Linked DNA regions of Homo sapiens: region 2 is linked to region 1. Evidence: fine-mapped expression QTL. A gene starts in region 1. The other region holds a variant in brackets. All regions are shown on one strand. Distances are between the middles of the regions.

The links.
Region 2: its variant is fine-mapped to the expression of ALG12 in T cells (TOPMed, PIP above 0.99).

What each region holds. Positions count from the first base shown.
Region 1 is chr22:49,907,932-49,922,291 of GRCh38, reverse strand. It overlaps ALG12 (ALG12 alpha-1,6-mannosyltransferase), which reads left to right and starts at 3,854. Exons shown (of 10, transcript NM_024105.4): 1 at 3,854-4,029; 2 at 8,449-8,688; 3 at 8,775-8,907; 4 at 11,685-11,858; 5 at 12,204-12,398; 6 at 12,945-13,048; 7 at 14,348-14,360. The coding sequence starts at 8,527. It overlaps CRELD2 (CRELD disulfide isomerase 2), which reads right to left and starts at 3,658. Exons shown (of 10, transcript NM_024324.5): 1 at 3,394-3,658; 2 at 2,980-3,062; 3 at 2,452-2,562; 4 at 2,045-2,136; 5 at 531-707. The coding sequence starts at 3,522. RefSeq lists silencers at 3,455-3,954, 4,065-4,264.
Region 2 is chr22:49,827,581-49,843,324 of GRCh38, reverse strand. LOC105377205 (a long non-coding RNA gene) reads left to right here. Exons shown (of 5, transcript NR_188597.1): 3 at 5,773-5,817; 4 at 5,931-6,033; 5 at 9,638-10,876. It overlaps BRD1 (bromodomain containing 1), which reads left to right and starts at 15,452. Exons shown (of 13, transcript NM_001304808.3): 1 at 15,452-15,744. RefSeq lists silencers at 4,240-4,289, 15,318-15,387. The variant G/A (reference allele first, on the strand shown) is at 7,810.

The DNA.
Region 1 (14,360 bases):
GAGGGGCGTAAGAATCGGAGAGGCCGGTCCTGACTATCGATCCACGGGTCTGTCTGCCCAGAATAGCCTAGGGGCTGCCGGCCAACCACACACTCACGTCCGAGACACTCAGAGTTTTCCTACATATCAGTGACAACCAGGGAGAAAACGTCCTTTGGAAAGATGCCACTCATAACGGCCTGCAGGGATTTGACAGATGCTGCTCTCTGGGCCGGTGCGGGGCCCACACGGCACCTCCAGGACCTGTGCACTGCATGGCCCATCACAACTCAAGGTCGGGGTGGACCTTGAACTAGAGAGAAAGGTGAGTAGCTTCTCCCTTCTGAGGGCTGTTACGGGACAGGAAGTGCCCGACAACCTCTGCCTCTATCCTCTGATGTTTTCATTCATCCTTCTGGGCCCTCGAAGCTTCCTTGGACATCTGGGGTTAAAGATCAACAGGCCCCTGTTCCCATCTAGGCAGGCAGCTCCAGCAAGGGGCTCTTGTCATCCCGCCTCAACCCCGGGGCCAGCCCAGGCGTAGCCCGTACCTGTGCAGATGCTGTGGGTCTCGTTCCGGAGCGAGCTGAAGTAGCCGTCCATGCAGTCAGTGCACAGCGGGCCCTGGTACCCCATGTGGCACCGGCAGGACCCGTCGCCCTGTCTGCTCCCATCTCCGCTGCAGTGGCCATTCCCGCTGCAGGGCCTCTGGGATCCGCCCTGGCATGCTTTAGGGGACACAAAACCATGCTCAGAGCACACCTGGTGGTGACCGGTGCGGTGTTCTCACACGGAGAGAACGCATGGCACCCAAACCCTGTACGATTCTGAGGACGTACATGAGCCTGAAGGCTTGGAGTGGGTGTTTGGGGAAACTGATTTCCTGGGTCTGCAGGGCTGGCGGTGGATCGCCTGAGTGGAGCAAGCCACAGGCTCCTGGGCTTCACTATGGCCACGTGCTGCATGATGACGTTTAGGTCAACAAGGGACCCTGCATAGCACAGCTGTCCCCTAAGATGATACTAAAGCTGAGCGGCTCTTATTGCCTAGTGACATCACAATGTGCCTCATTACCTGTTCTATGTTTAGATGTGTTCAGGTGACACATTCTTACCACGTGCCAAATGGCCCACAGTACTCAGGACCCTCACGAGCCGTGCAGGTGTGCGGCCTGGGAGCAGCAGGGCCTGCCAGGCAGCCTAGGTGCAGAGCGGCTGCACCATCTAGGCGTGTGGCGTGTGGCGTGTGGAGTGCACGCTGTGATGTTTGCACCATGACAAAGTCGCCTAATGACGCATTTCTCAGAACACGCCTGGTCGTTACACATGACTGCACTTTGTGTGGCTTTGGGCAGCCTCAGCTGAAACATGGTGATAGGGACACTGACGCGTCAGGCGCGGGGACTGCAGGGAGAGTGGGAACATTAGCTGCGGCCTCCAGTGCATGCCAGGGACAGCAGCAGGGGCTGGCAGAAGGCTGATGGTGGGCGGGTGGGGGGTCTGAACCTGAAACTTCTGCTACCTGATCTCGCTTGACCACGAGATTGGCTTTTATAAACAGTAAACCGTGACTTCAGTTTCAATGCACACTTCTTCACAGAAGAGCCCTGTCCCTTGGCACCCATTGGGGCTCAAGGCCATGTGCCCAGCCTGATAGACACCCAGTGCCCTGCGCTCTCTGCAATAGCAGCCACAGAAGTTGTGGTGTGGTCACCTCTGTGCACACAGGGAGAAGCACCTGGACAGGTCAGTCAGGACAGACTCTCAGGTGAGTGGACTCAGCTGTGAACAACCTGAGTCTGTGAACCCCTGAATTAACAGCACAGCTGGGAAGACATACTCAGAGTTTTACGCTAAAGCATGAGGTTAGTGGTGAGGCTGCAGCCAGACGGTGCGAAGTGCTCCAAGCTGTGTTGGGGATGGGGGAGGCAGCCATCCGGCAGGGTCCCAGACCCTACAGAAAGCTGATGCACCCCAGGTCCCCTCTGTGCTTTTACCTCCCAAGAATCATGAGAAGAAGAGGGGAAGTGACGTAGGAGATGGGATTTCCCTGAGGAGAAACGCACCGAGACAGTCGGGACCGTAGGTTCCTGGAGAGCAGCACACTTTCAGTGTCTTCACACAAAACCACTCGAATAAGTCAGGATATTCGCTCTTCCTGAGGATGGAGGAAAACATTCACTGAATCCCAGCAGACACGGTTCTTTAAAACAAACATGCAGCTGAACGTAACATATGCTCTGGAGTATTGTAAGGTCCAGGAAACAAGAGTCTAGGTGTGGACAGAATCTTCTCCTTAATTTCCTGGTTTTGATCGCTGACTCTGGTGATAAAAAACGGTAATGCAGGGGTAAGGTGGGTGCGAGGCAGGTGGGAGCTCCCTACTGTTCCTGTACCTTTCTAAGTCTGAGGTTATTTCAAATTCTAAGTTGGAAAATAAAAAGTATCTTCTAAGAGGTTTTAAGGCACTCACAGCTGCAGCCACCAGGCCTCCAGGTGCTCCTCCTGCGCCTCTAGCATCTGATTGCATTCGAAGTCGCTGCTCTCGCACAGCCCCTCCAGGATCTCCAGCAGGCGAATCTCGCTGAAACACAGGCCCACACCGGCCCACCGTCAGCGCCTCCAAGGCAGTGAAGAAAAATCCGAACCAATACGCCAACCTGGGTGCAGGGGCCGGGGAGCCAGGACTCCGGGCACAGAGAATAAGGGGACCCCACTGTCAGGGGAAGCCAGGAGCGGTTCCCACAAGTGGGGCTGGTGTTCCAGTTTACATTTTGAAAAGCCACTGTCTGTTGAGGGGGTAGGGACCAGAGCAGAAGCTGGAAGGCCAGAGAGGGGCCAGCCATTAGTCCTCAGGGAGAAGCCGAGGTGACTCGGACGGGTGACTGGTGCCTCGGGGGCTGTTCTGTCTCCCTGTCATTAACACAGGCACCAAAGGCAGGACACGACTTCCCAGGACAGCGCCAGGCCAAGACCCACAGGGGTGCTCCAGGGCACCCACCTGGACTCGTACTTGGACAGCGTCTTTTCCTCCCAAGCCGTGTTCCCGCCGCCAAAGTTCTTCTTTGCGGTGTCCACCATCCCCTGCGAGGAGACAGTGCCCATAGTGCTTGGTACCACCTGACCCGGGTCCAGGGTGGGGGCGAGCCCAGGTCGAGGGTGAGGGGACTCCAGGCCCACGGTGGCGTCGACCCTGGTTCCACGGTGGGGGTGGATCCGGGTCAAGGGTGAGGGGGACTCCAGGACCACGGTGGAGGGACTCTGGATCGACGGTGAGGGGGATCCCGAATCCAGGGTGAGGGGGACCCCGGATCCAGGGTGAGGGCGACCCTGGGCCCAAGGTGGGGCGACCCCGGATGCAGGGTGAGGGGGACCCCGGGCCCAAGGTTGACGACCCCGCCCGGCCCCTTCCCACCTGGTTAAACTTGTCCACCAGCCCCCGGCACCGGTGGCAGGGCGTCGGCTTCTTGGCGGCCTCCGGCGCGGGCGGCAGCAGCAGCAGAAGCGGCAGGAGCCCCAGCGCGGCCCGGCGCGGCAGGCGCATGGCGGGTAGCGCTGCGGGAAGACGCAGCCGGAGCTCCAGGTCCTGCGGCCGTGCTGCTCCGGCCTCCCGGCCGCCCACCCGCTCCCAGCCGCGCCGGCCTGTCCCCCAGGCTACTTGACGGCGCCGGCGAGGCCCCGCCCCACCCGCCAGCCCCGCGCCGCTATTGGTTGATGGGACCCGCCCCGGCCTGATATGGCCCAATCCGAGTTCGCCACGAGAGGTGACCAATGGGAAGGCCCCGGATCAGCGGCCGCCAGGAGTCCGGGGGCGGGGCGTGCAGGTCCGACCCCGCCTCCCGCTCCCCGCCCCTCGCGCGCAGCCCGCGGCGGCCATCTTTACTCAGGGCACAGAGGGTCTCTGCGGCCGTAGCGGCCGGGGCTGCGGTAGCCACTTTAGATTTGGGCAAGGACTTTAGATTCGGGCTCTGTTCTGTTTCCGCCGTCCTGCTTCCTGCCGAGGCTGGCCCAGGCAGCCGCGCTTCGAAGGACGCCGCCGGGAGCTGCGGAGGTCAGTGCGCGCTGCCGCGACCGGGGCCTTCAGGCGGGCGCGCGGCGAGACCAGGGAGGAGGCGGGCGAGGGCGCGACCCGAGCTGGCGCTGGCGCTGGATTCCTGAGGCCTCACCGCGCATGTCCACGCGTCACAGCCCCGTGCTCCTTACCTGGGGCTGCACCCCTCACTTGGGGCCGGGCTCCTCACCTGGGGCTGGACCTGTCACCTGGGGGCCAGACCTCTCACCCGGGGGCCGGACCTCTCATCCGGGGGCCCGACCTCTCACCTGGGGCTGGACCTCTCACCTGGGGCCGGGCTCCTCACCTGGGGCCGGACCTCCCACCTGGGGGATGGGTTTTTCACCTGGGGGCTGGGGATCTGGGGTCCACTTAGGGTCTCTGGGGGCTGGGGATCTGCATTTCTACAGGCGCTTGAGGTGATGAACACTCGCTCATGTTCAGGAACCCCTGGTTTAAATTAGGGGAAATAAAACGTGCAGCGTCTGGATTTCAGAGAACTCCTGCCTGTGGAAGGAAGGAGTGCAGATAACACTGCACATTTAAAAAAAAAAAAAGTAACATCTGATTTGACCAGTTTCTTTTCTGTTTTTTTGAGACGGAGTCTCACTTTGTCGCCCAGGCTGGAGTGCAGTGGCGCGATCTCAGCTCACTGCAAGCTCCGCCTTCCAGGTTCCTGTGATTCTGCTGCCTCAGCCTCCTAAGTTGGGATTACAGGCACCCACCACCAGGTCCGGCTAATTTTTGTATTTTTAGTAGAGACGGGGTTTCACCATGTTGGCCAGGCTGGTCTCGAAGTCCTGACCTCAAGCGATCTGCCTGCCTCAGCCTCCCAAAGTGCTAGGGTTACAGGCGTGAGCCACCATGCTTAGCCTGATTTGATCAATTTCGGTAGAGGCCTTAAAATCTGGATTGATGGGGACAAGAGGGTCTTTGCAGGTCATTCCCTAATCTGAGATGCCATTGTTCTGTAAACCACCATTTTAAAGTGTCATGGCCTGGGCCCGTTTTAACCTGTGGGTGCTCTCGAAGCACCCGTCACTTAGATTAGCCACAGCTGCTGCCCAGCTGCCCAGCAGAGTGGGCTAGTGCAGGACAGTGTCCGTTCACCCTCGCCTGGTGGGGGGTTCGTCGTGGTTTTCGTGCTTGCTGGTGTTGACTTGGTCTTCCCGTGCTCCTGGCAGAGAATCCAGACTCACCCTTGGTCTTCTCATGCCCTCGAAAGTGAGCTGTGCTGGTCATCAGCAGAAGGCACACCTTGTTGGGTCCGAGGAGGTGCTGGGGGCCCGCCAGGAGTGTCAGAGTCAGCACGTAATGTTTTCACCCCACAGCTGAACTCTTCCTTGCTGGGGAACTCCCCTGGGTGGAGAGGTGTGGAGTGGGGTTGTGGGGGACTGCCAAGCAGCACTTGCTGTGTGCACCTCCCACATCTTGGCACGTAGATGCTCCCCGTTCCGTTTTATTTTTTATTTTTGTAGAAATGGGGTCTCATGATGTAGCCCAAGTTGGTCTTGAACTCCGGGCCTCAAGCAGTACCCCCCATGTCAGCTTCCTGAGTAGCTGGGATTATTTTTGTGGAGATGGGGTCTGGCTCTGTAGCCCAGGTTGGTCTTGAACTCCTGAGTAGCTGGAATTACAGGCGTGAGCCAACACATCCGGCTTGCTTCCTATTTCTTTTTTTTTGAGACGGAGTCTGGCTCTGTTGTCCAGGCTGGAGTACAGTGGTGCGATCTTGGCTTGCTGCAACCTCTGCCTCCCGAGTTCAAGCAATTCTCCTCCTCTGCCTTCCAAGTAGTTGGGATTACAGGCGCACACCACCATGCCCAGCTAATTTTTGTATTTTTAGTAGAGATGAGGTTTCACCATGCTGGCTAGGCTGGTCTTGAATTCCTGACCTTGTGATCCACCCACCTCAGCCTCCCAAAGTGCTGGGATTACAGGCATGAGCCACCACGCCCGGCCGTTGGAACATATTTTTATTTAATTTAATTAATTTATTTATTTATTTTTGAGATGGAGTCTTGCTCTGTCGCCCAGGCAGGAGTGCAGTGGCGCGATCTCGGCTCACTGCAAGCTCCACCTCCTGGGTTCACACCATTCTCCTGCCTCAGCCTCCCAAGTAGCTGGGACTACTCGCCACCACTCCAGCTAATTTTTTTGTATTTTTAGTAGAGACGGGGTTTTACCATGTTGGCCAAGCTGGTCTCGATCTCTTGACCTTGTGATCCACCCGCCTCAGCCTCCCAAAGTGCTGGGATTACAGGAATGAGCCACCGCTCCCGGCTGCTGGAATTTTTAATAAGCACGTGAGCTGGTGTGATGAGAACCCCATGTAGGAGTTTTTACCGATTTCTTCTTCGGCAGCCTTGTTGAGTGCCTACTGTGCGGCAGGCTTTGCTGATTCAGCAGTGAGTCCACCAAGCAAGCCCTGCCCGCAGGATGAGTCCAGCAGGGGAGGTGGCAGCGAGGCAGCCTTCAGGCCACAGCGGCTGGCCTCTGTCCTTGGTGCTGAGGCTGCGCTGGTGGGAAAAATCATCCAGCATCAAAAACCCCCCACCGTCAAAAAGCTTGTGTCTTAGCAAGTGGGAGACAGCTGAGTGGGCCCTCCCTCAGTTAGTGATTCCTAACCTAGTCCTTCGACCTTTCTCTTTGTTTGATACCAAGTTTATTTTTTTAAATTTTTTTATTATCTATTTATTTATTTCTGAGACGGAGTCACGCTCTGTGGCCCAGACTGGATTTCAGTGGTGTGATCTCGGCTCACTGCGGCCTCTGCCTCCTGGGCTCAAGCGATTCTCCTGCCTTAGCCTCCCGAGTAGCTGGGATTATAGGCGTGCACTACCATGCCCAGCTAATTTTTGTATTTTTAGTAGAGACAGGGTTTCACCATGTTGGCCAGGATGGTCTTGATCTGCTGACCTCGTGATCCACCCACCTCAGCCTCCCGAAGAGCTGGGATTATGGGAATGAGCCACCGCACCTGGCCCTCAGCCTCCCAAAGAGCTGGGATTACGGGAATGAGCGACCGCGCCCGGCCCCAGGTTTTTATATTTGGCAAAGGAGAGAACTGCATACCATTTCAGTCGTAAAATTATTAAAGCTTTCTTTTTTCTTTCTCTCCACCCCCTGCCCACCATATCAAATAGGGTTCTCCTTCCTTCTAATCTACAGATTTTCCTTTGGTTGCCATCTTTGTATACTTCTTAACTCTCCGTTTGATCAAAAGATAGTTTTGGCTGGGCATGGTGGCCCACGCCTGTAATCCCAATACTTCAGGAGGCCAAGGTAGGAAGATGGCTTGAAGCCAGGAATTCCATACCAGCCTGGGCTACAAAGCAAGACCCTGTCTTTACAAAAAATAAGAAAACTTAGCTGAGTGTGGTGACCCACACCTGTAGCTGCGGCTACTCAGGAGGCTCAGGCAAAAGGATCCCAGGAGTTTGAGGCTGCAGTGAGCCATGATCACTCCACTGCACTCCAGCTTGGGTGACAGAGTAAGACGCTGTCTCTTAAAAAAAATTTTTAAAGTAGTTTTAATAAATGGTAAGCCCTGGGGTTCTCTCTCCCTTTGCTTCTGGCCCTTCTGGTTTGGATTGAATAAAATCAAATCTGTTTTAAAAGAAGCCAGAAACGTGAAGAGTTTGCCCCCTCCCCTCCCTTGGTCTCTCACGTGTAGCAGCTGGACATGTTGCTGGCCTCTCAGGAAGCTCCGTGCCACGGGCCCCTGAGGTTGTCCTGTTAGTGTTTGGGGGACCCATTGCCAGTCTTCCCAGGCTCACATGCAGGCTCATGGCCAGTGTGGTGCCACCTTTGGGAAAGCCGGCCATGGCTTCTCCCAGCCCCCAGGGTGGGGTTCGGCGCAGGCGTCCACAGCCCCATCCCACCATTCCTGGGAGCGGGGGCTTTGCTGGCCACTCGAGCCCTGTGTCCCAGCAGCTGTACTACGTTCAGTTTCTTGCCCTCCCGGGGCCCCTGTCCACCACTCTCCAGCTTGGTGCCTCCCACCCAGCTAACTGGCACCCCTCAGCCTCCCATTCCGTCTTCTTCAGCCGGTTCCCTCGGGGCCAAGCCTGGGTTTTGCTGACTCTCCTGCCAGATTTAGACTGGGGGGCAGGGGCCATTTACCACCCTCCATTGCCCTCGTGGCCCAGGCCTGGTCAGACTCAGGGTTCTGCGACTGAGATCCTTCTGCCTAGAAAAACATTCACAGAGCTGGAAGTGTCAGATCACTGGTTACAGTATGAAAGATTCTCAAGTGTGATTTTTTCTCCAAACTTTCCATCTTGATGCGTTTTCAGATTTGTAGTAGTGCGACTAAGACAGTAGTTCAGAGAATTCTGCTAACCCTTTACCCGGATCTCCCAAACGTGAGCGCAAGCGTGACTTTCGAACCTCAGGAATCTGTTTCCACTTTTCCAGCATGCGTGGAGTGGCAGTGCTAACGGCTGGTGTCTCGCACTGTTGGCCTGTGAAGGTACGTGAAGCTGAAAGCCTGGAATGGCTGGAAAGGGGTCATCAGGCAGGCGGCCCCTGCTGCTGGGGCTGCTGGTGGCCGTAGCCACTGTCCACCTGGTCATCTGTCCCTACACCAAAGTGGAGGAGAGCTTCAACCTGCAGGCCACACATGACCTGCTCTACCACTGGCAAGACCTGGAGCAGGTGAGGGGCCCCTGCTGTCTTTGGGGAAAACCTCATGTTACCAGCTGGCAGGGCCCCGGTGCACTGACCTGCCCTTCTCCTCGCAGTACGACCATCTTGAGTTCCCCGGAGTCGTCCCCAGGACGTTCCTCGGGCCAGTGGTGATCGCAGTGTTCTCCAGCCCCGCGGTTTACGTGCTTTCGCTGTTAGAAATGTCCAAGTTTTACTCTCAGCTAATAGGTAAGGGGGTCTTCAACAAAGGAGGAGGGAGTGAGGGACTGTGGTGTCATCGGGTGACCTCAGCGAGGCCGCGGTCCCTCCTGCCCAGGAACGCTGTCTGTTAGTCTTGCCTGCCCTCGATCACCGTGGCATGGCGGCTCAGAGCAGGTGCTCAGGTCAGGCCTAAGACGTCTGAGTCAGCCCCTCTGTGCCTCCACACTCTTGACTGTGAAATTAGGGGTGACGGCAGGTACAAGAGAAATGCCGACTGCCTGTGAGGCAGCTCTCGCCACCTGAGCCTGCTGCTCCCGCCTCACCTGGCAAGCCCCCATGGGGTCAACAGCCTTTATTCCTGCAGAAGCAGCACCATTTGCCTTGGGGAATGTTACAAACAGAAACCTCACATTCCCAGAGGCCACCACTGCAGGGCCTGTGTGCAAATCCTGGGTCTTTCTCTGTGCCCACATGAGGACTTTAAAAAAAAAAAATTAGAACGTTTTGTACATATTGTTCTAAAAACCGATTTTTTTTTCTTTTTTGAGACAGGGCCTTGCTGTGTCACCTAGGCTGAAGTGCAGTGGTGCAATCATAGCTCACTACAGCTTTGAACTCCTGGGCTCAAGTGATTGTCCCACCTCAGCCTCCCACAGTGCTGGGATTACAGGCATGAGCCACCACGCCCAGTCACACAACCTGAGTTTTTGAAGTCAGCAATCACCACTTTTTTATTTCAGTACGCTTTTATTGCTTTTAATACCCAGACATGCTTCCAGCGAGTCAGTCCAGCTTGTGTGGAGAGCTTTAAGAAGTAGCACGTTCCTGGGGAAGGAGCAGTTCTGCTTCTTGAAGGGGCAGATTGGGAACGGAAACCCACCATGGCACGGGGACAGCTGGACAAGCCGTGCATGTCCTGTAGAGGCATCAGGAAGCCCCAAATGGGGAGGAGTTGGGGGGCCACGAGCCAGGGAAAGGAAGTCCACAGGCAATTCCGGGGCTGAGTCCACATTCCCTTGGAAGCTTCTGCTTATTCCAGGGTTGGCAGCAAGAGGTTGGGAGGTTGGGCAGAGCTGGGTGGACTCCAGCTGGACAGAACCTTGGAGGGCTGCAGCTTCAGCTGGTGAACGGGAGCCCACCCTGTGTCCTTCCTGATCCCACTAAGGTGACCTGGAATTGCTAGTGCCCCCCCCAGCCCCTGCCACAGGCCAAAATCCTTCCTCTCTGGATGAAGAGCATGTCATCCTGGGGCCGAGGGTGATCCCGGGGCCGAGGGTGATCCTGGGGCCAGGCTGATCCCGGGGCCGAGGGTGATCCCGGGGCCGAGGGTGATCCCGGGGCCAGGCTGATCCCGCGGCCGAGGCTGATCCCGGGGCCGAGGGTGATCCCGTGGCCGAGGCTGATCCCGGGGCCGAGGGTGATCCCGCAGCCGAGGCTGATCGTGAGGCCGAGGCTACCCTTGTTGGGCACGGGGTTGAGATTGTTGGGCATTTGGGAAGATGGAAAACCAAGAGAAGAGACGCAGGGGATGGACCTGATGGGGAAAAGGGGAAGCGGGGCTTTGCTGGGGTCTGTGAATTGTTTAAAAGCCCGGGGGAAATTCCAGCACCAAAAATACAGCAGCTGGAGCCAGACCCACTTGTGAGTATCAGTGAAAAATGTCCTATTAAGACATTCAGACTGGGCATGGTGGCTCACGCCTGTAATCCCAGCACTTTGGGAGGCCGAGGCGGGGGGATCACCTGAGGTCAGGAGTTTGAGACCATCCTGGCCAACATGGGAAACCTTGTCTCTACTAAAAATACAAAAATTAGCCGGGCGTGTTGGCATGCGCCTATAATCCCAGCTACTCCGGAGGCTGAGGTAGGAGAATTGCTTGAACCCGGAAGGCAGAGGTTGCAGTGAGCCGAGATTATGCCACTGCACTCCAGCCTGAGCAACAGAGGGAAACTCTGTCCTTAAAAAGAAAAAAAAAAAGACATTTGCAGTCCGAATCCAGCAATCAGTGAAAAGAAAATGCCTGGTATGCACATGGGGTATTCTGGGAACAGCAGGTCCAGCCCTCAGACATCCGTGGCCCCCTTGGCAGTGCCTGGGTATCTCTGCCCATTGGCCCCCACAGCTGCCTGGACCCAGTTGCTTCTCACATGGCTTCGAAGTTCCTCTGGCCTTCTGGAAAGGTAGCAAGAGCCACCCAGAAGTTCATTTTTCTTCCTGTTTTCAGTCTCTTGCCAGCGGCTGACAGGCCGGTCCACGGTGAGGATGTGTGGTCGGCTGGGTACTGTCCTGGGCACACCTGCCCCCTCACCACCTCCTCATCAGACCACCAGCCCAGAGGTGGCTCCTGCTGTCAAATGGGGAGAGGGGTCCTGACCCCCTTCCTGCCTGGGAGCCTGTGTTCCTGCCACATCCCACCTCCTCATGGCTGCTGGTTAGAGCAAGGTCTGAGCCCGGCCTTTGCAAACATTTCCCCTGGAGATGCCACAGCCCGGTGGGGTCTCTGGTTTAGTGTAGGGCTCAGCTCGTGGCACCCCCAAGTTGTGTGTCCTCCCTCATGCTTCAGAGAGCAGCCCCCGCAAGGGTCCTCAGTTCCCGACAGGAGCGCAGGGGGCCTGGGTCCAGTCGTCTGTTTTCAACATGGAGACGATGCCCTCAAGGCTGCTTTGCCTGACGTAGCCGTCAGCTGGCATTGCAGCAGCATAGAAAACTCCATATAGAAAGATCTGTGTAGAAGGACCCACGTAGGGGGCCCCACTGGATACTCCTCCACTGCAGGCTCAGGTGCTGTCACTGTCTTTGTTTAGTTAGAGGAGTGCTTGGACTCGGCGTGATTTTTGGACTCTGGACGTTACAAAAGGAAGTGAGACGGCACTTCGGGGCCATGGTGGCCACCATGTTCTGCTGGGTGACGGCCATGCAGTTCCACCTGATGTTCTACTGCACGCGGACACTGCCCAATGTGCTGGCCCTGCCTGTAGGTACGTAGCTGCCGGCCGGGCCTGCACACCCATGGTGCCGGGCAGGGGCTCCCCTGAGTCGGGCTGTGCAGCTGATGGCAGTGCCTCCCCCGTAATGGCCATTCCCCACTGGGTTCCTCAGGATGGTCTGTGACCTGAAACCAGGCTCTTTGTTTTCCATGCTGGGTTGGGACACACTTCCTGGCCAACAGCATAGGTGCGGGGAGCGGCTCTGAGCAGTTTCTTTTCTGGGATATTTGTGTGGCTTTTATAATAGGAAAAGGAATCACCCTTCACTTCCCCGGGTGTTTTCTGGGCCGGGTGGGCCCTGTGTCTTGACGAGCACCCTCCCGCACTGTCTTGCAGTCCTGCTGGCCCTCGCGGCCTGGCTGCGGCACGAGTGGGCCCGCTTCATCTGGCTGTCAGCCTTCGCCATCATCGTGTTCAGGGTGGAGCTGTGCCTGTTCCTGGGCCTCCTGCTGCTGCTGGCCTTGGGCAACCGAAAGGTTTCTGTAGTCAGAGCCCTTCGCCACGCCGTCCCGGCAGGGATCCTCTGTTTAGGTAAGTCAGTCACTGTGGGATGCTTCTAACTGGATTTTGTTTTGCCTTGTTTTACAAAGGTCAAGAGAAATTTGGGAGGTTTTCATCCCCATGAAATAAAATGACCCTAAATTTAGCAGTGTTGAAAACATTTCAATCCTAAGCCCCCTGCCCGGGGATCTCCAGGGGGACCCACCGTGCGCCTTAGGAGCCCCTGTTCACTGGTCTGTCCCTTGTCCTTGGGCTGGGGGAGGCCACAAGAGTGGAGGGCGGCTTGTCCCTGCGCCAGGCGGTGGTTCTGGGCAGTGGTGTCCTCGACACAGTTGGTGTCTTTTTTCTTTTTTTGTTTTAGAGATAGTCTTGCTCTGTCACCCAGGATGGAGTGCAGTGGCATGATCATGGCCCACTGCAACCTTGAACTCCTAGGCTCCAGCAATCTTCCCACCCTGCCCAACCTCTTTTATATGAAAGCAGCTTGTAGTTTCTGTAGTGATGGGGGCTGCATTGTGGCGGGATGTTTACTGATGGCTGTGTTTGCGACTAAGAAACTCTATTTTATTTTGTCAGGACTGACGGTTGCTGTGGACTCTTATTTTTGGCGGCAGCTCACTTGGCCGGAAGGAAAGGTGCTTTGGTACAACACTGTCCTGAACAAAAGCTCCAACTGGGGGGTATCCTTCAGTGTCCGTGCAGGAGGGCGATGGGTGGGACCTGCAGCCACATCTCCTGGGCCTCCATGGGCAGTGGAAGCAGCTGCTTCTCCCTTCTCTGCAGCGTGGCTGCAGGGTCAGGATGGAGCCCCTCCCTCCCACTTGCTCCTGGGAAATGCTGGCCATGGGAGGTGAGGTCCTGGCTGCCCTCTCTCAGCCAGGAAACAGCCTGAGGGCTGGAAACAGCCCTGCCCCAGATTACCCCAGCCTCTCCTCTGCTCCTCGGACAATCTGCTTTTTTTTTTTTTTTTTTGAGACTGAGTCTCGCTCTGTCGCCCAGGCTGGAGTACAGTGGTATGATCTTGGCTCACTGCAACCTCCACCTCCCTGGTTCAAGCAATTCTCCTGCCTCAGCCTCATGAGTAGCTGGGACTATAGGCGCACGCCACCACACCTGGCTAATTTTTGTATTTTTAGTAGAGGTGGGGTTTTACCATGTTGGTCAGGCTGATCTTGAACTCTTGAACTCAGGTGATCCACCTGCCTTGGCCTCCCAAAGTGCTGGGATTACAGGTGTGAGCCACCACGCCCGGCCCGGACAATCTGCATTTAAAAAGTGCTTTCTTAGGAATTATGTCAAACATACACGCATAGATGGAACAGCATAACGAATCCCAACATGTGTGTCACCCGTGACCGTCTGTTTTTTGTTTTTTGGTTTTTTTTTTTTTTTTTTTTGAGACAGAGTCTCACTCTGTCGCCAGGTTGGAGTACAGTGGCATGATCTCGGCTCACTGCAACCTCCAACTCCCTGGTTCAAGTGATTCTCCTGCCTCAGCCTCCTGAGTAGCTGGGATTACAGGCACATGCCACCATGCCCAGCTAATTTTTGTATTTGTAGTAGAGACAGGGTTTCACCATGTTGGCCAGGATGGTCTCGATCTCTTTACCTCGTGATCTACCCACCTTGGCCTCCCGAAGTGCTGGGATTACAGACATGAGCCACTGCGCCCGGCCGACCATCTGTTTTTAACAGTGAAGAAAAGGGTACAGAGACCGAACGTCCTGTGGCCCTTGCTGCCTTGGTCCTGCCTGGAGGGGGCCCGACGCCCAAGTGGTATGTGTGCACCCGAGCTGTGGCCTGGGCTCTGTCTTTTAGGAGGGGCCTGAGGCCTGAGTGGTGTCTGTGCACACGAGCCGTGGTCCAGGCTGCATCTCTCAGCACAACTGTCTTCAAGCGTCTTCTCCACCTTGACCCTGCCACCTAGCCCACGGGCTCATGCGTGGACAGGTGCGTGGCCTCCTTAACCCAGCCCGCAGACCTCCCCGCTGC
Region 2 (15,744 bases), 80 kb after region 1:
CTTTATTTTTTGGGCACGGTGGTTCACGTCTGTAATCTCAGCACTGTGGGAGGCCGAGGTGGGCAGATCATGAAGTCAGGAGTTTGAGACCAGCCTGGCCAACATGGTGAAACCCCATCTCTACTAAAAATACAAAAAAATTAGCCGGGTGTGGTGGTGGGCACCTGTAATCCCAGCTACTCCAGAGGCCGAGCCAGAAGAGTCGCCGAAATCCAGGAGGCAGAGGTTGCAGTGAGCTGAGCTCGCACCACTGCACTCCAGCCTGGGCAACAAGAGCGAAACTCCATCTCAAAAAAAAAAAAAAGTCTTTTTTTCTCGGGGATGAATGCCCAGAAGCACAACTGCTGGGTCCCATGGTAGTCAGATGGTTAGTTTTTGAAGAAACTGCCAAGCTGTTTTCCAGAATGGCTGTACCATGTTACATTCCCACCAGCAATGCATGAATGGCCCAGCTTCTCCAGGTCTTTGCCAGTGTTTGGTGGTGTTACTGCTTTTCATATGAGTCATTTGAATAGGTGTGATGTCTTGTTGCACTTTTAGTTTGCACCTCCATAATGGCTAAGGATGATGGACATCATGGTGTGTGTTTATTCTGTATATTCCCTTCATGGAAATGTCTCTTCATATCTTTTGCTGACTTTTCTATTGGATTGCTTATTTTTATTTCTTACTGTTGAGTTTTGAGAGCTTTTCTATATTCTACACGCCAGTCCTTTGTCAGACAGGGGGTGTGCAAATGCTTTTTCTCAGGCTGTAGCTTGTCTTTTCATCCTCTGAACAGGGTCTTTCACAGAGCAAAAGTTTTTAGTTTTAATGAGGTTCCCTTTATCAATATTTTATTTTATGGCTCACGCTTTTGGTATCAAACCTAAGAACTTTTTGCCTAGCCCAAGATCCCAAAGATTTTCTCCTATGTTTTTCCTAAAAGTTTTATAGTTTCACGTTTTAGATCTATGGTCAATTTTGGGTGTTTTTGTTTTCTTTCTTTTTTTTTTTGAGATAGAGTCATGTTCCATCGCCCAGGCTGGAGTGCAGTGGCGCGATCTCGGCCCACTGCAACCTCCGCCTCCTGGGATCAAGCAATTCTCCTGCCTCAGCCTCCTGAATAGCTGAGATTACAGGCACCTGCCACCATGCCTGGCTCATTTTTGTATTTTTAGTAGAGATGGGGTTTCACCATGTTGGCCAGGCTGGTCTTGAACTCCTGACCTCAAGTGATCCGCCCACCTCAGCCTCCCAAAGTGCTGGGATTACAGGTCTGAGCCACCATACTTGGGAAACTGGCACTTTTTCTATTTGAGCTTTCCAATCTGTGAAGATGGTTTATCTCTCCACTTATTTGGATCTTTGATTACTTTCATCAGCATTTCATAGTTTTTAGCATGTTCTATACATGTTTTCTTAAATTTACACCTAGCTGGCCGGGCGCGGTGGCTCATGCCTATAATCCTAGCACTCTGGGAGGCTGAGGTGGGTGGATCATTTGAGGTCAAGAGTTCAAGATCAGCCTGGCCAACATGGTGAAACCCCATCTCTACTAAAAATACAAAAATGAGCCAGGTGAGATATTGGGCACCTGTAATCCCAGCTACTCGGGAGGCTGAGGCAGGAGAATCTCTTCAACCCGGGAGGCGGAGGTTGCGGTGAGCAGAGATCGGGCCATTGCACTCCAGCCTGGGTGATAGAGTGAGACTCTGTCTCAAAAAAGAAGAAGAACAGGTAAAGGAAATTCTCCGAACAGAAAAGAAAAGACAACAGGCGGGGCGTGGTGGCTCACACCTGTAATCCCAGCACTTTGGGAGGCCGAGGTGGGTGGATCACCTGAGGTCAGGAGTTCAAGACCAGCCTTGGGCAACATGGCGAAACCTTGTCTCTACTAAAATACAAAAAATTAGCCGGGCATGGTGGCGTGCGTGTGCTTTTAATCCCAGGTACTTGGGAGGCTGAGGCAGGGAGAATTGTTTGAACCTGGGAGGTGGAGGGAGGTTGCAGTGATCTGAGATTGCACCATTGTACTCCAGCCTGGGCAACAGAGCGAGACTCTGTCTCCAAAAAAAAAAAAAAGAAATGACAACAAACGAATGTTCAGGGAGGAAAGAAGATGGTAGAATGAGTAAGCACCGGTAAAGACACTAGGTTGGCCTTCTCATAAGTTTTTAAAATCATATTGGATGGTTGAAGCAAAATTATAACACTGTCTGATGTGGCACTAAGTATATATAGAAAATAGACAATTCCATTATTTTTTAATTTATTTTTATGTTTATCATTATTCTTTTATTTATTTATTTTTGAGATGGAATCTCGCTGTGTCGCCCAGGCTGGAGTGCAATGGCTTGATCTCAGCTCACTGCAACCTCGCCTCCTAGGTTCAAGCAATTCTCCTGCCTCAGCCTCCCGGGTAGCTGGGATTACAGGCGCCCACCACCACACCTGGCTAATTTTTGTATTTTTAGTAGGGATGGGGTTTCACCATGTTGGCCAGGCTGGTCTCGAACTCCTGGTCTCATGTGATCCGCCTACCTCGGCCTCCCAAAGTGCTGGTATGAAGGCGTGAGCCACAGCGCCCAGCCCCCCTTTAGCTGTTCTTTAAGGGTAGTTCTGCTAGTGAGAAATTCTTTTCATGTGCCTTGGTCTGTGAATTTTTTTTATTTCTCTTTGTTCCCGAAGGACATTTTCACTCCACATAGAATCCGTGGCTGATAGTTCTTTCGGCACGTGAGAAACACCAGACCACTTGTTTCTGGCCTCGGTGGTTTCCAATACAAAGCTATGTTCTTCCCCATAGGCAATGTGTTGTTTCTCTGCCAGCTTTCAAGGGTTTTTTCTTTGTCATTAGTTCCCAGAAGTTTAATCACGATGTGTGCGGCATAGATTTCTTTGGATTTCTCTTATTTGGGTTTTCTGAGTTTCTTGACTTTAGAGGTTTATGTCTTTGGCCAAATTTGGGAAGATTTTGTTGTTCATTCTTCACATATTTTTTTCAGCTCCATGCTCTTTCTCCTCTCCATCTTAAACATCAATGACACAAAATTTAGATTTTTATTTATTTATTTATTTTCGAGACAGAGTCTTGCTCTGTCACCTAGACTGGAGTGCAGTGGTGCAATCTCGGCTCACTGCAACCTCTGCCTCCTGGGTTCAAGTGAGTCTCCTGCCTCAGCCTCCCAAGTAGTTGGGATTACAGGCGCCTGCCACCATGCCTGGCTAATTTTTGTATTTTTAGTAGAGATGGGGTTTTGCCATGTTGATCAGGCTGGTCTCGAACTCCTGACCTCAGGTGATCTGCCCACCTTGGCCTCCCAGAGTGCTGGGATTAGAGGCAAGAGCCACTGTGCCCAGCTAATTTTTGTATTTTTAGTAGAGACAGGGTTTCACCATGTTGGCCAGGCTGGTCTCCAACTCCTGACCTCGGGTGATCTGCCCTCCTCAGCTTCCCAAAGTGCTGGGATTATAGGTGTGAGCCACCACGCCTGGCCTAGATTTTTAAAAATAGTCCCACAGGTCCCTGAGGCTATGTTCCATCAGTTTTTTTCAGTCTATTTTCCATCTTTTTTTCAGATTGGGTTACTTCTATTGTTCTGTCTTCCAGCTCATGGATTCTTTCCTCTGTCATATTCATGCTGCTATTGAGCCCATTCAGTGAGTTTTTTAGTTTGGTTTATTGTACTTTTCGACACTACAATTTCCATCTGGTTCTTTTTTCTTTTCTTTTCTTTCTTTATTTCTGAGACAGAGTCTCTCTCTGTTACCCAGGCTGGGGTACAGCGGTGCGATCATGACTCACTGCAGCCTCAGCCTCCCAGGCTCAAGCGATTCTGTTGCCTCAGCCGCCTACCCTCATTCCCCACACCCCGATTTCATTAAAAAAAAAAAACCAAAAACTTTTTTTCTCTATTTTTCAGTTGTTTCAAGATAGTTTGTAAATGCTTGTTGAAGCATTTTTGTGAGGGCTGCTTTACAATCATTTTCGGATAATCCGATACCTGATTTATCTCGGTGTTGGCATCGTTATTTGTCTTTTCTTAGTCAAGTTATGAGTCTCCCGGCTCCTGGTGTGATGCATGATTGTGGAATCGTCATCTGGACAGTTTGTATATCAGCAGCAGACTCTGAATCCTACTTAAACCTGCTATTTCAGCAGGCAGTCACCCTGTTGAGGTGCAGCACATCCTGGCCTACTTTTGTGGGTTGTGGTTCCTACAAGAATTGAGTTTATCTACTAGATCTGCTATTTAGGCGTCTACGTAATTAGGCTGCTGCTGCCGGTGGGGATAGAGGCGCCTCTCCAGGCTTCTCCGAGCTGTTAGGTGGGGAGTGGGCGGACCTGGTGCCAGCAAGTTCCGGCTCCGCCTCTGCAGATTCCCCTATGGGAGGGCTGTGGGGCTTCCCCCAGCTACTGGGGAGGCGTGGGGAGAGGCGAGGGGAGGAGAGGAGGCCCTAGGCCTGGACCCCCTTGCACCACTTTGGGTCAGGAGATACTGGGCCTGGACTGCCTTCCACTGCCGGGCGGGGATGGGAGGCTCCAGGCGGCCGCGCTTTTTCCAGTCCGCGGTCCCCACCGGCCGGTTCCCCTCTTCCCCCCACTTCGAGGCCTGCAATTGTCTGCTGTACTGGCTCCCAGTGCTGAAAGGTGTGTGTAGCTGGAGGAGCACGGAGAGATGAGTCCGTTCCATCTCCTCTTGAGCTAGAAGTCTCTGGTTTTACTTTTAATTTTTATTTCTGTACTTTTTTTTTTTTTTTTGAGATGGCGTCTCGCTCTGTCGCCCAGGCTGGAGGGCAGTGGCGCGATCTCGGCTCACTGCAAGCTCCGCCTCCCGCGTTCACGCCATTCTCCTGCCTCAGCTTCCCGAGTAGCTGGGACTACAGGCGCCCGCCACCACGCCCGGCTAATTTTTTTCTATTTTTTTTTTAGTAGAGACGGGGTTTCACCGTGTTAGCCAGGATGGTCTCGATCTCCTGACCTCGTGATCCGCCCGCCTCGGCCTCCCAAAGTGCTGGGATTACAGGCGTGAGCCACCGCGCCCGGCCTATTTATGTAATTATTTATTCTATGGATTTTAAAATAGCCTCATTGATAAAGAATTCACAGACATACCATGCAGTTTACTGTATACTTAAAATGGACAGGCCAGGTGCAGTGGCCCCTGCCTATAATCTCAGCACTTTGGGAGGCTGAGGAGAGCGAAGTGCTTGAGTCCAGGAGTTTGAGACCAGCCTGGGCAACAAAGCGAGACCCTGTCTCTACAAAAAAATTAAAAAAAAAAAAAAAAAAACAACTTAGCCGGGTGTGGTGGTGCGCATCCTTAGTCCCAGCTACTCAGGAGGCTGATATGGGAGGATCCCTTGAGCCCAGGAGTTCAAGGTTGCAGTGAGCTGTGATTACAGCAGCTGTGATTTACTCCAGCCTGGGTACCAGAGCAAGTCCCCGTCTCAAAAACAAGTTCAATGAAATGTTTCTAGTGTATTCACAGGGCTGTGCGGTCCTAACCATAGTCAGTTTTAGAACCTGTTCATCATCCCCAAAAGAAACCTCATACCCGTTAGCACTCACTCCGTTTCCCCTCCCTGAGACCCCGGCAACCTATTTGCTTATTCTGGGCATTTCATGTAAACGGAATCATTACAATATGTGATCTTTTGTGGCTGCGTCATGTTTTCAAGGGTTCTTCATGATGCAGCACATGTCAATACTTGGTTTTTACTGCCAAATTATATGCCATCTATGTATATGCCAGATTTATCCATTCATGACCTGTTTTCACTTTTCAGCTATTATGAGAAATACCACTGCGATGAGTCTTCACATACAAGTGTGTATGTGGACACATATTTTCATTTCTTGGGGATATGCCTCAGAGTGGACTTGCTGGGACCTATGGACGCTCTGTGTTCAGCATTTTGAAGCATTGCCCGACCGTTTTCTAAAGCAGGTGCACCATTTGACGGTCCCACCAGCAGCATGAGAGAGTTCCAGTGTCTCCACATCCTCGTCAACACTCACTACCTGACTTTTTGGGTCTAGCTCTCCAGGTGGGTGTGCAGTAGGATGTCATTGTGGTTTTGATTGGCAGTTCCCTGAGAGCTAATGATGATCATCTTTCGATGTGCTTATTGGCTATTTGTAGTTGTCTATTCAAGTCCTTTGTCCATTTTAAAATCAGGTTCTAGCTGAGCGCAGTGGCTCACACCTGTAATACTAGCACTTTGGGAGGCCGAGACGGGCGGATCATCTGAGGTCAGAGGTTCGAGATCAGCCTGGCCAACATGGCGAAACCCCGTCTCTACTAAAAATACAGAAATTAGCCAGGCGTGATGGTGTGCGCCTGTAATCCCAGCTACTTGGGAGGCTGAGGCAGGAGAAACACTTGAAGCCAGGAGGCAGAGGTTGCAGTGAGCCAAGATCGCGCCGCAGCACTCCAGCCTGGGCGACAGAGTGAGACTCCGTCTCAAAAAAAAAAAAAAATCAGGTTCTGTGTTTTTTGTTGTGGAGTTGAGGACTGTGGCTTTTATTCCCAGGGAGATGGGAAGCCAGTGGAAGGTGTTAAACGCAGGAGATGCTGTCACTTGGGCTGCTGTAGAGAGGAAGAGGCAGAGGGGTACAAGGGTGAAGCAGAGAGGTGGGTCAGGCTACTGGGATAATCCAGGTGAGAGGTGTTGAGGGAACAGAGGAGGCGGTGACACAGGGCTGGCTCTGGACTTATTTTGAAAGGGGAGCCGACAGGCTTTGCCAGCGGGTCAGACATGAGCAGTGCAGGAGTGCCTCTCACCTAGGAAGCCCGGAGTTGCCTTAGCTGAGAAAGTGGATTCATGTCCTATGGCTGCTATGACAAAGCGCCACAGCCTGGGGGGCTGAGAATGGCAGCAACTCACTCTCCCACAGCTCTGGAGGTCGGAAGCCCGAAGTCCAGGCATCAGCAGGACTGTGTTCCCTCTGAAACCCATAAAGAGGGGTCTTTCCTGCCTCTTTCGGCTTCTGGTGGCCGTCAATACTTTGCATTCCTTGGCTTGTGGCCACATTACTCTGCTCTGTCTCCATTGTCACATAGCTGTCTTTGCTCTGTGTGTCTGTGTCCCAATTTCTCTTCTTATAAGAATACCAGGTGCTTGCTTCAGCAGCACATACACTAAAATTGGAATGATACAGAGAAGGTTAGCAGATTGTGTAATTTAGAAAGGGATACCAGTCATTAGATTAGGGCCCAACTCAATGACCTCATCCTAACTTAATTATTATTATTATTATTATTTATTCTTTTTTTTCTTATGTCTTTTTTGTTGTTTTTTTTTTTGAGATGGAGTCTTGCTCTGTCGCCCAGGCTGGAGTGCAGTGGCACGATCTCAGCTCACTGCAAGCTCCACCTCCTGGGTTCACGCCATTCTCCTGCCTAAGCCTCCCAAGTATCTGGGACTACAGGCACCCATCACCACGCCTGGCTATATTTGTGTATTTTTAGTACAGACAGGTTTTCACCGTGTTAGCCAGGATGGTCTCCATCTGCTGACCTCGTGATCTGCCTGCCTTGGCCTCCCAAAGTGCTGGGATTACAGGCTTGAGCCACTACACCCGGCCTATTATTTATTCTTATTTATTTATTTATTTTTTGCCACTACACCCGGCCTATTATTTATTCTTATTTATTTATTTATTTTTTGAGATGGAGTCTTACTCTATTGCCCAGGCTGGAGTGCAGTGGCGCAATCTCTGCTCATTGCAACCTCCGCCTCCCAGGTTCAAGTGATACCCCTGCCTCAGCCTTGTGAGTAGCTAGGACTACAGGCATGCGCCACCATGCCCAGCTAATTTTT[G/A]TATTTTTAGTAGAGTCGGGGTTTCACCACGTTGGTCAGGCTGGTCTCAAACTCCTGACCTCAGGTGATCCGCCCGCCTCAGCCTCCCAAAGTGCTGGGATTACAGGCGTGAGCCACTGCACCTGGCCTCATCCTAACTTTATATCTGCAAAGACCCTATTTCCAAATTAGCTCATATTCCCAGGTACTGTGCTTAGGACTTCACCATACCTTTTGCAGGGGGGACACAATTCAACCCATAACCGAGGAAGGAGACAGCAGAGAAGTTTGGGGATGAAGACCAAAAGCTGAGTGCCAGATACGTTGAGTTCGAGATGCCTACAGGACATCCTGGAGGAGAGGCTGAGAAGGCAGCTAGATGTTGGAGCTGTCAAAGCATACTTTTTAAAAAGTTAGAAACAGGGCCAGGCGCGGTGGCTCACGCGTGTAATCCCAGCACTTTGGCAGGCCGAGGTGGGCGGATCACGAGGTCAGGAGATCGAGACCATCCTGGCTAACATGGTGAAACCCCTTCTCTACTAAAAATACAAAAAAAAAAAAAAAAATTAGCCGGGCGTGGTGGTGGGTGCCTGTAGTCCCAGCTACTTGGGAGGCTGAGGCAGGAGAATGGCATGAACCTGGGAGGTGGAGTTTGCTGTGAGCTGAGATCGCGCCACTGCACTCCAGCCTGGGTGACAGAGCGAGACTCCGTCTTAAAAAAAAAAAAAGTTAAAAACATGACTCATACAACTCTAAAGTGAAGACGTGTCAAAGATTTATTTTAATCATTAATGAGGAAACCAGCATGATGGTGAGGCTGGTTCAAAAGATTGGAGAGAAGGAAGTATTTGTAGTGACTTAAAAAAGTTTGAGTAATTCTGCTTATTTAGATTTTTAAAAAAACTGGTTAATGTTCTACAGGGCCATAAACCGCAACCTTTTCTTTTTTTCTTTTCTTTTTTTTTTGAGATGGAGTCTTGTTCTGTCGCCCGGGCTGGAGTGCAATAGCTTGATCTCAGCTCACTGCAACCTCCGCCTCCCAGGTTCAAGCAATTCTCCTGCCTCAGCCTCCTGAGTAGCTGGGATTACAGGCGCCCACCACCACGCCCGGCTGATTTTTGTATTTTTAGTAGAGACAAGGGTTCACCATGTTGGCCAGGCTGGTCTCGAACTCCTGACCTCAGGTGATCCTCCCACCTTGGCCTCCCAAAGTGCTGGGATTACAGGCGTGAGCCACTGCGCCCAGTCAAACTGCAACCTTTTTTACTGTAATCTTTTCCACTGGACAGAAATAATTTCTATCACTCACTACTGGGCAAAATTTATTTGCATTGCTGTCAGAGAGGAATAATTTTACTTAGCCATCTATCTTCAACAAATTAAAGTCTACCCTTGCTGAGTTGTAAAATATCGTAATCAATAGTATATAGCAAGTTAAGCAGGCGCACACTCCAGAGGATCCGAAAATCTGCCTGGCAGGCTTGCTCAGGAACATAGCCTGCCACTGAATGGACACACTCATTTTGGGGTGTCTAATCCTTAATCTGGGACATTTTTATTAGCTCCCTCTTGGGATGATAAATAATCTCCGAAGGTTATTCTTGACCACAGAAAGCTAGTCTTGCATTCTGACCTAATTCATCTACACAGGTGCTGCAAGAAGTGGTAATTACCACGCACGAGTGTCCTTGTTAGGTGACACATGTAAACCAGATGGCGTTATGCAATGACCAAGCCGGAAAATCAACTTCTGTCTGGACGTGTCATCATAAGGAATGTAGGACTGAGCCTACATCACACCTGAGATTTTTTGTTTTTTAATTTCTCTTATTTGCTCTTCTGTTCCTAGGCCAGGAAGCCGAACCAAATCCACCTCCCTCAGGTGTGCCCGCGGGACCTGTGTGTGTGCAAGTTTCTATCTTCCAGAAGGTTCCAGTGTCTGCCATGGCTCTTGGCCTGCCAGGAAGTATCCTTCTTACTACTTGTGAGGCTGAGGCTTTGTGTGCCAGAGTACAGGTGCCCGGCCAGTATGGGTCTGAGGGTTGTGTGGGCATTGGTTCAGCACACAAGCCACAACCCTTGTTCCTTAAAGGTGGGCGTGTTGTGGAAGCACAGGAAAGTTATTCTCAAATATGACACCCATGTAAGGCCTGGGCTCCACTATTAATTTGTCTGATTATATCCTGGTGACAAGGAGGACAAATTTCTACTGCAACAATGCAAATTACTACGTTTTTATTAAAAGTAAATGTCAGTAAAACTATTTTTCCTGAATTCTGAAGTGAGAAAAACACCATTTAAAGAACGTTTTAATGTTTGTGAAAGGATAGTCTCCTAAAGTAGATTGTTGCAGATACCGGGTAAAAATAAAAATTAAATAAATTAAAGGTGAGATAGATCAAAGAAGAAGGGTTTTGTCTTATTCCTGCCAGAAACAGAATATCAGAAACAACATGAGCATCCTCCTCCTTGCCTTTTCTTGGGCTGTGCTTTCAGCCTGCAGATATAACCATTCTGGAGAGCAGTGATGCCCCCAGAACCGCATTTTTGGCTGGTGCAAAATGGGGGGCAGTGGTTGTGTCTGGGGCCAAGTTTCTGTCCTGTATAGCCTAGAGATGGTTATGTAGCGGGGGACTGAGCTACTAAGTGAAGGCATAGATAGTTATGTAGAAACAGAGGAGGGTAGAATCAACTCCATGCTAGATTGTAACTGGAGGTACAGGTATCAGTATGAACTCAAGGTTTGCTAAGAGGTATCAGAAAAGATATGGGTGTGTGTGTGTGTGTGTGTGTGTGTGTGTGTGTGTGTGTGTGTGTGTTTGTACATACTTATTTCCTAGCTCTGTCTGCTGAGTGTAAATGGAATCATATTCTGTAATCTTTTGAGATTTCTTTCTTCCATTTAAAATTATGTGTTTGAGATTTGGCCGTGTTGGTGGTGGAATTCATTCATTTCTGTTGCTGTGTGCTATTCCATTGCGTGGATACACCTCACTTTGTCCATTTTACCGTCCTTTGATATTTAAGATTTCTCCCAGTATTTGCTATTAAAAACAGCGTTAAAATAAAAAAAAAAAAACACCAAAAACAGTGTTGCTCTGAACATTCATGCACATGCTTCCTGATGAACAAGTTTCTTTTTTTCTTTTCTTTTTTTTTTTTTTTTTTTAGATGGAGTCTTGCTCTGTTGCCCAGGCTGGAGTGCAGTGGCGCAATCTCTGCTCACTGCAAACTCTGCCTCCTGGGTTCACACCATTCTCCTGCCTCAGCCTCCTGGCTAATTTTTTGTATTTTTAGTAGAGATGGGGTTTCACCGTGTTAGCCAGGATGGTCTCAATCTCCTGACCTCATGATCTGCCTGCCTCAGCCTCCCAAACTGCTGGGATTACAGGCGTGAGCCACGGCGCCCGGCCCTGATGAACAGGTTTCTTAGGCACACACCCAGGCACGGAATGCACCTAGGAATACAAATTGACTTAACCCTACAGCCGGGAATGGGTATGCACACTGGGGGAGCTTGCATCTTCTCAAAGTGGCCACAACAACTTCTCCCATACAGCATGCTTCTCTTAAAATGTGATGATAACACATGTCCCAAGAGGTGGGGTCTGTATTCTCCCTAACTCTTGAATCTGGACAGGCTTGTCCCTATGGCAGAAGTGATGCGTGTGACTTCAGAAGCTAGGATGTGAAAAGTGATACAGGTCCCACCTGCTTCTCTTGAGACCCTTGCTCCTGCAGCATGGCTACTATTCCATGAGGATGTTCCCAAGGCCCTCAGCCCAGAGCCTGGATCAAGGTCCCAGCCACGTGAGTGCACCATCTTGGAAGTGGCTCCTCCAGCCCCTAGTGGAGGTGCCCCAGATAAGGATGCAGGAAGTAGTCTAGTTGTACCTGCTGAATCCTGCCCAAATAGCAGATGTGTGAACAAAAGGAATGACTGCTGTTTTGAGCTACAAAGTTTTGGGGGTGGTTTGTTTTGCAGCAAGAGGTAACTGATAAACATGTCCACTTTCACTGGGTAACGCCTTATGACCAAGATATTTACCAAATAATTGTCCCACTCGACATTCTGGCCAGCAGGGTATTGCTCTGCCATCTTGCCATCGCTGAGTATTGCCACATATGAACGCTGGTGCCTATTTGGTGTGTATTTTGTTTGCATTTCCAAATTTACTAGTAAGATGATTGGCCTTTCCATGTTCTCTGCAAGAAGCCTGATTATGACATGGGTTTCTTTGTTGATTTGGGTTTTGTGCATCATTTTGTTGGCTTGTTTGTCTCTTTCTAATGGATCTGAAGGGGTTCTCTATATATTCTAAATACTAATCATCTGCAAGGTGTACATATCTTTTAGTTTTTCATTCTTCAGTCTCTTTATGGTGCCTTTTGAGGAACAAACATATGATAATTTCCATCCTTTCATTTACGAAATGGAGTCTTGCTCTGTCACTCAGGCTGGAGTGCAGTGGGGCAATCTTGCCTCACTGCAACCTCAGCCTCCTGGGTTCAAGTGATTCTCCTGCCTCAGCCTCCTGAGTAGCTGGGATTACAGGCACGTGCCCCCATGCCTGGCTAATTTTTCTATTTTTAGTAGAGATGGGGTTTCACTATGTTGGTCAGGTCTTGAACTCCTGACCTCAGGTGATGCACCTGCCTCGGTCTCCCAAAGTGTTGGGATTACAGGCATGAGCCACTGTGCCTGGCCCCATCGTTTTATTTTTCATCTGTTATTTTTCAGGTGAATTTCTTGTAAGAATATTTCACCATATTTATATTCCATTCAGAGAGGTTGTCTTTTAATAGATGCATTTAATCCAATCACATTCCTCTGATTACTCAAATGTTTGAACTTAGTTCTGCCAACTCATATTATGTTCTGTATTTATCATGATTTTATCTTTTACTCATTCCTGTTTTTTTTTTGTTGTTGCTGCTGTCGTTTTTCATTTCGCTTTTTCCTCAGCTGTTCTGAAAGTGGTAAATTCTTTTTCCACCATTCTTGTGGAAACTTTCTGATAGTTAAAACTTTTTTTTTTTGTTTTTTTGAGATGGAGTTTTGCTCTTGTTGCCCAGGCTGGAGTGCAATGGCACCATCTCAGCTCACTGTAACCTCCACCTCCCAGTTTCAACCAATTCTCCTGCCTCAGCCTCCCAAGTAGTGGGATTACAGGCATGCGCCGCCACGCCCGGCTAATTTTTTTTTTTTTGTATTTTTAGTAGAGATGGGGTTTCTCCATGTTGATCAGGCTGGTCTTGAACTCCCGACCTCAGGTAGTCTGCCCGCCTCGGCCTCCCAAAGTGCTGGGATTACAGGTGTGAGCCACCATGCCCAGCTAAAATTTTTAACCTTTTTTTCTATCGATTCTAAAATCCTCGAACCAAACAATACAAGAGCTTTCGTGCACTTTCACTTCCTTCTGCGCCCCGCCTTACCATGTGTCATGTTGAGTTCATCCGGGATTTCTCTCAGGTTGATTTTCTTTTAACGGACCAGACTGATTTACTTGCTGGCATCCACGTCTTACTCTTGGGTCCACTTTTCACTTTGTTAAGGTATTTCTTCTAGTACTTTTACAGACTGCGTGTGTGGTAAATGTGGATGTTAACCGGCGGTGAAGACACCTTTATTTTGCTGTCTCACTGGAACGCTAGTTTCACTGTGTATGAGTTACGGTTCAATTCTCTTAGTATTTTGGCAACCCCTCCTCTGTAGGATGAGTCTGAATTCTAAAGAAGATCCTCTCCGAAGGCCTTCCTGAGTATCCCTGTGACATGCCTACGTTCGAGGCTTTGTTCTTCACTCCTCTGAGCATCACCTGCATTGTCTGAGAGGCCACTGTCCCCGTCTCCTCTTCTGTGAAGGGTTTCGTGTCTTTTCATCTTCTCTTTCATGAGACTGTGTCTTACTTTTGCTCTGTGTTGTGGAGAACCTCCAGCTTGGTTTCCATCTGGCTTCCCTGAGGTGGAGGAGAGAAGCGTTCGGGCTCAGCTTGCTTGTTTGGCCACAGGTAAACAGACATCTGTAGAATGGAGGTGACACGAAGCTCCTGGGTCTGGTGCAGAAGAGGTCAGGGCCCCAGTGGCCTGTACCCCCTAAGCTCAAGGGTGTGTCTGCAGGGAGTCCTAGATCAGGACTGACCACTGGGGCCTTGGCTGGGGTCCTACCTGCCCTTGAGTCGTCACGTCACAACCCACACACTGGGTGCCATGGGCATGAGGACTGGCCAGGAAAAGGCCTGTGGGGCCTGGCCCCTATCAGGGACACTTGGGCGAACAAGGCCACCCCACTCCCAATAAGGTGTTTGGTGCAGTGCCCCGAGCAGTGGGGCCGCTCGGCTGCCCCCGTGGGGACGGTCTGTCCCAGGGTGGACAGCTGCTCTTCCTGAGGGGCCTGCCTGGATGCCACAGGCTGTGCTGCTGGAACCCAGGGATTCCACAGCACCATCGTCCTGATCACAAATTCTCAAGGAAACCAAGGAGCTCCTGCCTCACCTTAAAACATTTGGGATTTAATCTTGGAGTGAAAATTGTTATGACCCCACTGAATTTTAGAGTTTACACAAAAGGCCAAAGTGAAGGCAGAGACTCAGGCCTCTCAACTCCCACCCGCAGGGGCCTTTTCTTGCAACCTTAAAGGGCATCTGCTTCACGCCGGCCTCGGCAGGGCCCTCACACTGGCAGGACTACTTGCACACCGGGCCTGACACTCACTAGGGGAGGCTCCCCAGCCCGGCTGCACCACCCACCTCTACCTAGTCGCGTGTCCCGGCCAGTGCCCTTTCCACTCCCACCCAGTGCCCCCGCAGGGCCCCCTCTGTCCTCTTAGGGACCTCCACTCCCGGACCAATAGCCTCCTGCCTCAGGGCCCCCCACTCATGGGCCAATCGCCCCCTGCCTCAGGCCTCCCCCCACTCGTGGGCCAATCGCCCCCTGCCTCAGGCCCCCACCAACTCGTGGGCCAATCGCCCCCTGCCTCAGGGCCCCCCATTCCTGGGCCAATGGCCTTCTGCCTCAGGGACTCCCACTCTCAGCTGGTCCCCCCCGCCTCAGGGACCCCCACTCCTGGCCGTTCCCCCGTCAGGGCCCCCGACTGGCGGCTGCTCCCCCATCCTGCCTCGGGGCCCCCCACTCCCGGGCCAATGTCCTTCTGCCTCAGGTACCCCCACTCCCGGCCCGTCCCCCCGCCTGTGGGCCCCCCACTCCAGGCCGGTGGTAGCCCCTGCCTCAGAGCCGCCCACTCCTGGGCCATCTCCTGCCTCAGCGACCCCACTCCTGGGCCAATGCCCTTCTGCCTCAGGGACCCCCACTCCCAGCCGGTACCCCCCTGCTTCAAAGCCCCCGACTCCCGGCTGCTCCCCACCTGCCTCGGGGCCCCCCACTCCTAGGCCTACGTCCCCCTGCCTCAGGGCCCCTCATTCTCCATCCTCCTGACCCCCTCAGGGACCTTCTGGCCCGGTCCTCCCTAACTCAAGGGCCCCCACTCTCCATCCTCCCGACCCCCCACTCCCAGCCCGGTCCCCGCCGCCTCAGGGCCCCCTTTGGCCCCCGCTCCTCGCGGCGCCCCCTCCCCCGCGCGCGGCCGAGGCAGCGGAGTCCGCGCGTCATGGCGGCGGCGGGCGGGGCGCGTCTCGCACGCAGCGCGCCGGGCGGAGCGCTCGCCGCATTGTTTGCTTCGCTGGGGAGCGAGCGAGCGACCCGGCCCTGGAGTCCGAGCCAGCCCCGCGTCCCGCGCCCGCCGCCCGCCGCCCGCTCCCGCGCCCGCGCCCGCGCCCGCCGGCCGGGCCCCCCGAGCCGGGCCTCCAGCTGGGCCCCGAGCCCGAGCCCGCGCCGCGCGAGCCGCTGCCCGAGAGTCCGCGGCCGCCGCTGCCGGGCCCGGAGCCGCCGCGGCCGAGAGGGGCCCGCGCCCAGGAGCGGCGGCGGGGCCCGGCCTGCGCGGCCGTTGGCGGAGGAGCC